Regions from separate parts of the Homo sapiens genome. Here region 2 is linked to region 1. Evidence: fine-mapped expression QTL. Tissue or cell type: prefrontal cortex. Region 1 holds a variant in brackets; the other region holds the start of a gene. All regions are shown on one strand. Distances are between the middles of the regions.

Region 1 (5,150 bases):
GGAGCATTATTTCCTACTGAAAAAACAAAACAAAAACAAAAACAAATTCAGCTCCACATCTGCTGTGCTGCAGAAATGTCAGTCATAAATGTAGGGTTCTAGATAAATGAAGCAGTATTTTGGGGATATATGCATAGAAAAATGGAGTATATTACCTCAATAAACTCATGAAGTTAAAAATAAGCCAGCCCTTGCAAAACTGTGCCCAGGGCTTCGGTGTCCTGTTCGTCACATATGTGTGCAGCAGTCAGCACGAGTCATAGCTCTCACTCAGAGACTGAACGTTGCCAAGTTAGATGGCCTCTTTGCAAGACACTCCTCAGCGTTAGAGTGAATTTATATTGTATCTTCCCAAGAATTATGCAAATAGAATTTCTAAAATAAGGCTATGAAGTCTGATGCTTAGCTCTTTTTGAAATAATGGTTTTGTAAAAGTCTCTGATAGTTTTTTTTTTAGTCTAATGACCTGAAAATGTCTAAACTAATGTTTTTCAAATCTCATATGAAAACATTCACCTCAATGAATGTGTAAACAGGTCGCTGTTATGAAAGCTGTCATGCTTTGCAGTCTAAGACATGAATTGTATTCAGGGGTGTTCGTGCAGGCTTAGGTGGCCCATGTGAACATAGGCTCATGTGTGCATATATAGAGTATACACTGTGTTGGATAGCTGTATGCATGCCTAGCTAAGTTAGTTAATTTGTCCATTTATAGGGACTCTGAATACCACTAAATCAACTGTTATGTAGGTAGTTTCTAAAAAATAGTGTAGTTTATATAAGATACTATTTATATGCTTATAAACTATGCTGTTTATCTCATGGCTGACTGAGTGTTGGAATGAAGCTATGGTATTTTCTTGCAAAGAAGCAGCCCAGCAAGTTGTGGCCTGCCATTCTCTCTAGATGCCCTCACTGTCCCTGCCCTGCCCACGGCTGAGGGGAAGCCTGGGGAAGTAAACCAGGCCTCTAAGCAGGGGCCTCCTCTGCTTCTATATTCCTTTACTCCCAAACCGAGGGGTCTGCAAAGCCCAGCAGACTTCAGCTCTGTGTGGCTATAGGGTAGATGATGTTTATAGGAAGACACTAGGCAAGAAGAACTCAGGCTAAAGAAATGTGACATTGTCTAGCTGAGTCATAGATTTTGAAAGAAGTCTGTCCTTGAGGCATTAATGTGTTGGGTGATCATTAAGAAGTGATTCTGCTGGTCACGGTGGCTCACACCTGTAATCCCAGCACTTTGGGAGGCTGAGGCGGGGGATCACCTGAGGTCAGGAGTTCGAGACCAGCCTGGCCAACATGGTGAAACCCTGTCTCTAATTAAAAAAAAAATACAAAAAATTAGCCTGCGTGGTGGTGCGTGCCTGTAATCCCGGCTACTCAGGAGGCTGAGGCAGGAGAATCACTTGAACCCAGGAGGAGGAGGTTGCAGTGAGCCAAGATCATGCCATTGTACTCCAGCCTGGGCATCAAGAGTGAAACTCTGTCTCAAAAAAAAAAAAAAAAAAAAAAAAAAAAAGAAGAAGTGATTGTTTCATCTATCAGGTGTTACTGCTAAGTGCCTCTGGATCATTTGCTCATTCATTCATTCATTCATTTAACAATATTTATTGAGCACTACCATGCAGCTGTTCTATGCTGGTGACATGTTATCTCTCCTCATGGAGTTAGTCTTCCAGTTTTACCTACTTAGCAAGAAAGGGGCTTTCTCTAGGCCACGCCTTACTTTAGTTTTTAAACATCAGACAAACAGTAACTACAGGGCAATAAGATACTTCAAATCTGACCAGCCAAGTTCCTTTACTCGCCCTTCTTGCTTTACTTAGAGCTCTGTCATTTAGCATCTGAATATTCTCTAGTTTCAGCCCTTTGATTATGAGATTTCTTTGCTTTCTTTTCTCTTATATGTCAGAGCAGATCTGTCTCTCTGTCCTCGCTATCCTTTCTGACAAGAGGACAGAGAAGGTTTTGCACACAAGTGGATGACAGCTTCAGAGAGCAGGAGGTGGGAGGCAGAGGTGAGTGGATCACCTGAGGTCGGTGGTGGGCACCTGTAATCCCAGCTGCCCAGGAGGCTGAGGCAGGAGAATCACTTGAACCCAGGAGACAGAGGTTGTAGTGAGCTGAGGTTGCGCCACTGCACTCTAGGCTGGGCAACAAGAGCGAAACTCCGTCTCAAAAAAAAAAAAAAAAAA[AG/G]CAGAAAGTCCTCTTGACACCTTCAGGGAGAAAGGGTTGGCTGCAGTGAGGTCCGGTCTTGACGCCTCTTTGGTGTGGGTACAGCTGTCAAGTCCCTCTGCTTTTGAGGATAATAATATCATTAAGCAGCAAGCTGGCACAATTTTTGAACAGAGATTTCTCACAGGAACTCTGCAAGCATTTCACATTCCATTTGCTTCAGTAATGTGAAACTTATTTTTCTAAAAAAAGGTACAGGCAGATCTTGGCATGACTCACTAGAGAACAATAGTTAAGTCATAATTTATTTTCATCTTTTTCCCCAGGAAAGGGAAAAATTGATTAAAAGTATGGGGAATGTAACCAGGCGTGAATCTGTAAAGGGGAAATGGATCAAAGAATCACACAAACATGTATACATGTAAAATGGGTAAGTTTTGTGAACAAAAGGCACAGGGTCTCCCATAGTATGTCGCGGGAGGTCTTGACACATCCTGAAGGGACAGATTGGTCTTCCTGCGGAAGTGGAATGAAAGCTGAAATCTGAAGGATGAGTAGGAGTAAGACCAAAGTGGAATGTGCAGGGAACATCAAGTTCAAGCAGAAGGAACAACATCTGCAAAGGCTCCAAGCTGGAAGGAAACGGAGTGCTATTGGTGGAGGGAGAGCAGGGCTGAGGCACGCATTCTGCTGGTGTGCACAGGGCTTGGGTTGGAGTCCAGCCCACCACCTCCTCTTGTTGACGTTTGTGTCTGTCCACGTTTGTGTTTTCCCCTATTCCTGCCTGCACCTCCAGTCTTCTCCATGAGATTGCATCCCTCTTCCTGTAACAGTTGTTTCAGTGTGAGTTTGCTGGAAACAAATTGTATCAACTTTTCTTTTCTGAAAATGTCTTTATTTCATCCTTTTTCCGCAGCTTTGATGACATATTAGTTACATATCATAAAGTTCACCTGTTTAAAATGTATAATCAGGCCAGGCGCAGTGGTTCATGCCTGTAATCCCAGCACTTTGGGAGGCCAAGGCCTGTGGATCACCTGAGGTCAGGAGTTCAAAACCAGCTTGGCCAGCATGGTGAAACCCCGTCTCTACTAAAAATGCAAAAATTAGCCAGGCATGGTGGTGGCTGCCTGTAGTCCCAGCTACTCCAGAGGCTAGGGCAGGAGAATTGCTTGAACCTAGGAGGCGGAGGTTGCAGTGAGCCGAGATCGTGCCGCTGCACTCAAACCTGGGTGATGGAACGAGACTCCGTCTCAAAAAAAAAAAAAAAAGGGTACAATCAATGGGTTTTTGTTAAAGAGTTGTGCACCAAGGAACACAATCTAATTTTAGAACATTTCCATTTCCCCAGAAAGAAACCTTGTGCCCATTAGCAGTCACTCCCATTCTACCTGTGTTTCCCCAGCATCCCTCTCCCCACCTCTTTGCAACCACTAATCTACTCTGTGTCTCTGTGGATTTGCCTAGTCTGGACATTTCGTGTAAGTGGAATCATGCAGTATGTGGCCTTTTGTAGCTGCCTTCTTTCACTTAGGTTAATGTGTTCAAGATTCATCCAGATTGTAGCATATATCATTACTTTATTCCTTTTTCTTGATGGATAATATTTCATTACATATATGTAACATGTTTTTTATTCTATCTATCCAGAGATGGATATTTGGGTTATTTCTACTTTTTGATTATTATATAAATAATGCTGCTATGAACATTGGTGTACAGGTTTTTTTGTGCACGTTTTAGTTGTGGTAAAATGCACATAACATAAAACTTACCATCTTAATCATTTTAAGTGGTATTAAGTGCGTTCAGATTGTTGTGCAGTCATCATCACTGTCCACCCCCAGAACTCTTTTTGGGGTCTTGCAAAATGGAAACACTACGCATTAAAAAGTAACTTCCTAATCCCTTCTCCCTCAGCCCCTGGCAGTCACCATTTTACTTTCTGATGCTACGATTTTGACTACTCTGAGTACCTCATATAGGTGGAATCTAGTTTTGAGACTAATAATTCCAGGTGCTTCTTGACTTACGATGGGGTTATGTCCTGATATACCCATCATAAATTGAAAATGTCATTAAGTTGAAAATGCACAGCTGACTGGAGACTTGGTGCCACTGCCCAGCATTGCAAGAGACGGATGGTTTCTATTGACTGGGTATTACTTTTGCACCATTGTAAAGTCAAAAATCATAAATTGAACCATCATAAGTTGGTTTTAAAAGCCTGTACCTCTTTTTTTAAAAAAGTGCTAGTCTCTTAAATCACGTAAAATACAAAACAATGGAGTTACAAACCATTTTTACAATAAGAGTAGCTTTAATAATTCCCGTGTATTTACTTTTATTGAGATCTTTATTTCTTTATATGCCTTCAAGTTAATATCTAGTGTCCTTTCATTTCAACCTGCAGGACTCTTTTTAGCATTTCTTGCAGAACAGCTCTAGTAGTAACAGACTCCCTCAGCTTTTATTTATTTGGGAATGTCTTAATTTCTCCCTCACTTTTCAAGGATACTTTTGCCAGTTATAGGACTCATGCTTGACATTTTTTTCTTTTCACACTTTGAACATATCAGCCTACTACCTTCTGGCTTCCAAAGTTTCTGATGAAAAATCTACTGATAATCTTATTGCAGATCTGTTGTATGTCACAAGTCACATCTCTCTTGCTGCTTTCAAGATTTTCTGTCTTTGGCTTTCAACAGTTTGATTATAATGTGTCTTGTTGTGGGCTTAAGTTCATCCTACTTGGATTTCATTGAGCTAAATGGATGTTTTATACATACACACACATAAACATATGTGTGTGTATGTATAAACACATAAATGAATAAATGTATAAATGTAAAATGTATATATAGATATATGTATGTATAAACATATAAATGTAGAAATATATAATGTATATTTCATCAAATTTGGAAAGTTTGCAGCCATTATTTTCTCAAATATTCTTCCTCCCATTTCTCTCT
Region 2 (5,150 bases), 290 kb before region 1:
GCTGCTTCAGTGGCCTCAGACGTCATAAAATGGTTGAGAGAATTAAATGTGTTAATATGCATAAGCCATTCATGTTTGGCAAATATGAAATGTTAACTGTTATGACAGGGTTCTCCCTTTCCCATCTCTATTCTGTGCTTACTGTTCCTATCATATACCATGTATTCCCTCAAGTGAACAAAGATTCCTAACCAAGACACATCAAAGTGGCATTTACCTTGATAAATTAACTATAGTCCAAGATATTGACTTTGGTCAAAAATGTGATCTTGTTAGGGTTCCAGAATTGATCCAATTCATGTATTGAGCCAATGCATGTATTTTAATAGTGCTAAAAATATCTCTCTTCATCCAGGTATTGTATATACAGTGTGAATAAAACACAACAAAGGTATTAATTCAACAAAGTTTTCATCAATTACATGACAGACATTGTTCTTAGCACTTGGGAATCATCAGTGAGTCAAATGAATAAAGGTGATAAGGAGGGCTATTAAAAAAAGTAGATGGCCGGGCGAGGTGGTTCACACCTGTAATCCCAGCACTTTGGGAGGCCAAGGTGGACAGATCACCTGAGGTCAGGAGTTTGAGACCAGCCTGGCCAACATGGTGAAACCCCGTCTCTACCAAAAATACAAAAATTACCTGGGCGTGGTGGCAGGCGCCTGTAATCTCAGCTACTCGGGAGGCTGAGGCAGGAGAATCGCTTGAACCCGGGAGGTGGAGGTTTCAGTGGGCCGAGATGGGCTGGGCAACAGAGCGAGATTCAGTCTATTAAAAAAAAATGTAGAGCTGATAAAGGGAGGATTGTAACTGTGTATGTGAGAAAACTTACATTGCAATTTTAAATAGGGTTGTTAGGCTAAGCCTCATTAAAAAGGCATCATGTGAGAAAAGATGCAAGAAGCTGTTCTAAGCACCTGAACACGTAAACCAATAAACAGACCTCAGTGAGGATGTGACATTTCAGTTGAACCCCGAAAGATAAGAAAAAATCACACAGAGTGAGAAAAAGTGAAAACAAAGGGATGTCCAAAAATCCCTGACTGCCAGCTTATTGATTTACAAAGAGAACTATAGACCATCTATCAGATATTCAGATGAGCCTGTGCAATTATTCACTGTAGGTCTGGTGACAAGCCAACTCTTAAGTTTGCTTGGTGAATACATAATCAGAAAAGGACTGAGTTACATGATATGAACGTCTGACGGAATGGGCTCTGGGGAAGACACTTCCTTAACTCAGGAGAGCCCCTGCTCTTAAGCCGGGATACCCTCTCTCCCCTAGAGAAGGCGTGGATTCATCTGGCACAGGTGTGCCCCTCTTTTTTTATTCTATGCTCCAGTAGCGGATCAGACCCCGACTGAGTAATGCACGGTATTTCAGGATATTTCACAGTCGTTGGGATAGTGTCAAGCCTTTGAAGTTCTGGTTAAATTTTGTTCCTTCAAAATCACTTTGAATCTTTCTACTCTCACCCTTTAATGACTAATTTTTTGAAGTTTTTCCTCGGAAGACTTCCTTACCTTCCATGTTCTTGGGACACTTCGCTACCTCTGCACTGCCAAACACGGCTCCCCATCACTGAACTGAAAGCGAAAACAGCACAATCCCATCTATCTTTCTAGGCAGGCGCAGCTTCTTCATAAGACCTCGCCAAGACCCTATTATTTTGTCCCCTCTCTAATGATATACAACTTACTCAGAATCTCATTACGGTCGTGTGCATGTTTTACTTCGCCCTTTTGGCTCCCAGGGGGCGTGCACACAGCTAGCGTCCAACATGTTTTACGATATTTACCCTCCCTCCTGTGTTCGGGATCAACCGTTCCTAACAGTGAAATTAGGTCGTCCCAAGTGCTGAGGAGAAAGTGTGCACACAAGAGGCTTCAACACCGGCGGAGGCGACCCGCAAGTCCTGACCCACCGCCAGAAACACCGCGCGCGCCCAAGACCCCACGGCCGCCCACGCGCTACGGCCCGCAACATCCCGGTTTGAAGCGTTTCCGCTTCACCCACCTGCGGCTTCCGGTCGTACCCACGGCCTCGTGAGGGCTCGAGCTGGAAAAGTGCGTCATACGACCCCGAGCAACCGGCAGGCCTTGCGCGCGATGCTGCCCCGCCCCCTGAGGGCCGGCCCCCTGAAGCGCAAGAGAAGGAGGGGCGCGCAGGGATCGCGCCTAGTCTCTCCGCCTGCGGAGCCGTGGGGTCCCGGCAGCCCGCAGGAGTGCTAAGTAAGGGTCCTTCAGGGCGGGAACCAGGTTCCAGGCAGGGACGCAGGCTACGTTCGAATAAAAGTACCGAAGGTCATAAGGCCCCAGTTCAGATGGGACTTCCCCGCGTGACAGCACAGAGATAACGGCCAGCCCTGGGCGAAGGTAGGAGAGCGGGCGTGCCAGGTTGGAGGGGTCATTTCGTGGAGCGAGTTTAGGGGGAGCCCCCAGAAGCCCAGAGCAGTCAGGTCACACGACGGGCAGGAAGGAGTACCAGCAAATACTTTTTATTGAGCATACAGGTATTACGCTGGGTCTTTACATATCTCCTCCAAATAAGTGAGTCCAAATGGCAGGTAACTCGAAAGGTGAGAAATTCAAGTCAGCTTTGAAAGACACATTGCATTTAAAGGAAAAACGGTATTCGCAGATGATAATACAGGATGGAGTGGATCAGAAAACACACTGAGGCTACTGATCATTCCCATTTGCCAACTCACTGCAGTTGGCAAGAAAACTCTGTGACTCCATGAGATGGGAAATTACACCAGCAGTCAAGGTAGCAAGGTAATAGTTTCGGCTAAGTTTTGCTGCATAACAAACTGCCTCAAATAGTGGTTTATATCTCTAACGTGGGCAAGGTGGGTGATTCTTCTGCTAGTTTCTCCTGGGCATATTCATGTGGCTTCATTCAGCACAGGTTGGCTACGCTGGGCGGTCCAAGATAGCCTTATTCATGCTCTGGCAGGTGCTGCCTGGCTGCTAGGGCATCTCAATTCAGGCCTAATCTTGGAAGCAGCGCCTCAGCCATATTCTATTGGCCAAAACAACAACAAAGCCAGCCCAGAGTTAAGGCGTGGGGTAATGGACTTCACCTCTTGATGAAAGAAGCCCAAAGAATTTGTGGTCACCTTTTTCAACCTTGCACAGAAATTAATCTCTCCTTCAGTTAAAATAGAAACCACTAAGACTTGCCTCTTGGAGTAAGAATCATTCAGTGTTCAGTTTGCTGATGCTGATACGGTAAATGACCAGGGCTTCATATAAAGCTACAATGAAGACATAATGACACCTCCTTTCTTTATTATCACACCTTTTACCAAGGTCACTCTGAGTAAGTCTATCTTGTATTATGCAGGTGGGAATGAATTTTGTTCAGAGTTAACTGCACTAGGAATTTTCCTAGTTATTATTAAAAACAGTCACAGAATATTGTTGCTCTTTGCTTATATTACTTCCTTCTAAATTCCCTTTCTCTGAAATCTGAGATGGTACAACTTTGGTTTTTTTTCCTAGTTTCTTGATGAAGAGGTTTTAAAGAATCCCATTCCCTCCTCCCTGCTCCAGGACTTCTGTCCCTTGGTTATTCTTACCTTTACCTACTTCTTCAGCTTCTCCACTGGAACCTTTCAAGTGACACTCAAACATGCTGTACTCTTTAACAATCCTCCAGTGACCTCATTTCTCTTTCCACTTGTCATCCTGTCTGCTACCCTTCTGAGCCAAGCTTCTTGGAAAAACTGCTATACATCCAGTATCTACTTTCTCACTTCCCATTCATTGTTTCAACGTACTCCAAAATGGCTTTTCCCCATTATTCCAGCAAAAGTGCTTTTGCTAAGGTCACGGGTGACATTCATATTGCTAGATCCACTGGACTTTTCAGTATTCATCTAAGTGTTCATTTGACTACCTCAACCTGGAGATTCCTGTGGACAACTTTGACATTACCCTGTCAACTCCTCAGTCCCTTTTGCCAGGTTTTCCTCCAGCCTCACTGCCAACTCCGCAGTCCCCTTTGCCAGCTACCCTGATCTAGTCAGCCCTAAATGTTGGAGTTCCTCAGATCTTTATCTCACACTACATTTTCCTTAAGCAATTTCATTCATTCTATGGCTCTAAGTACCATTTCTGTATACAACTTCAAAATTTATATTTTTTAGTTCCATAGATACAACTGCCTTGTAAACCTGGTAAGTCTAAAAGCCATGCTCCTGAACTCACTCTTTCCCCCCAGGGATCCTGCATGCATAAAGGCTAAAGCCTTTTTTGCCAGAAGCCCTTTCTTCTTCCTCACTTTCCGCTTCCAAACCATGACTACATCCTGTCAGACTTCACCTGGACTCTATCCCCTTCTCTCCACTTTTATGACCATCACCATCATTCACTTAGACAACCATGTCACTGCAAAAGCTATAAATGTCCTCAGAGGCTGCTCTATGGAGTAGCCATTCTGTTTCTTTACTTTCTTAATCAACTTGCTTTCAAAAATGTCCTGAGATACGCTTTCCCATTTCCCACGTTAAAATCAAGTTTATGGCCCAGTGGGAGGATCACCTGAGGCCAGGAGTTTGAGACCAGTCTGGGTAACATTGTAAGACTCTGTCTCTAAAAAAATACAAAAACATGCTGGGTATGGTGGCACATGCCTGTAATCCTAGCTACTAGGAGGCTGAGGCAGGAAGATCGCTTAAGAACAGGAATTCGACACTGCACTGAGCTATGATCGCTCCACTGCACTCCAGCCTGGGCAACAGAGTGAGACCATCTTAAAAAAAATCAGTTTTATGTGGTATGTCTTGTGTTGTGTTATGTCCCTCTGAATGCTATACGTTTCTTCATGGCATATCACAATTTGCATCTTATATAATTACTGTATAATCTCCTGTCTTTCCTAGTAGACAGGCACAAAACTCTACAAGGCACTGGCTATTTTATTCACTACTGTATCTCCAGCACCAAGCACAGTGCCAGGCTAGGTGAACAAATGAATGATTTATGTATTTTTTTTCTCTTCTAAAGAATTACGTTCTGTAAATAATAAAAAGCATTGTCTTTTTGGCTTATGTCCCATTCAACAATTGTTTTTCACTCTCAATATTCCCTACAAACACATTTGTTTAGTATTTTTCTGATTAATAAAATATAGCTTCCCC

The links. PIP is the estimated chance that this variant, and not a neighbour inherited with it, causes the effect.
Region 2: it holds the start of TSGA10, and the variant in region 1 is fine-mapped to the expression of TSGA10 in prefrontal cortex (CommonMind, PIP 0.95).

What each region holds. Positions count from the first base shown.
Region 1 is chr2:98,862,845-98,867,994 of GRCh38, reverse strand. All of the region lies in intron 1 of CRACDL (CRACD like), which reads left to right. Among named protein-coding and RNA genes, the nearest start is that of CRACDL, 71 kb to the left of the region's middle. The variant AG/G (reference allele first, on the strand shown) is at 2,196.
Region 2 is chr2:99,151,922-99,157,071 of GRCh38, reverse strand. TSGA10 (testis specific 10) reads left to right here and starts at 2,130. Exons shown (of 21, transcript NM_025244.4): 1 at 2,130-2,379. LIPT1 (lipoyltransferase 1) reads right to left here and starts at 2,105. Exons shown (of 2, transcript NM_145199.3): 1 at 2,021-2,105. RefSeq lists enhancers at 1,528-1,577, 1,608-1,687, 1,768-1,967, 1,998-2,227, 2,288-2,487 and 1 more.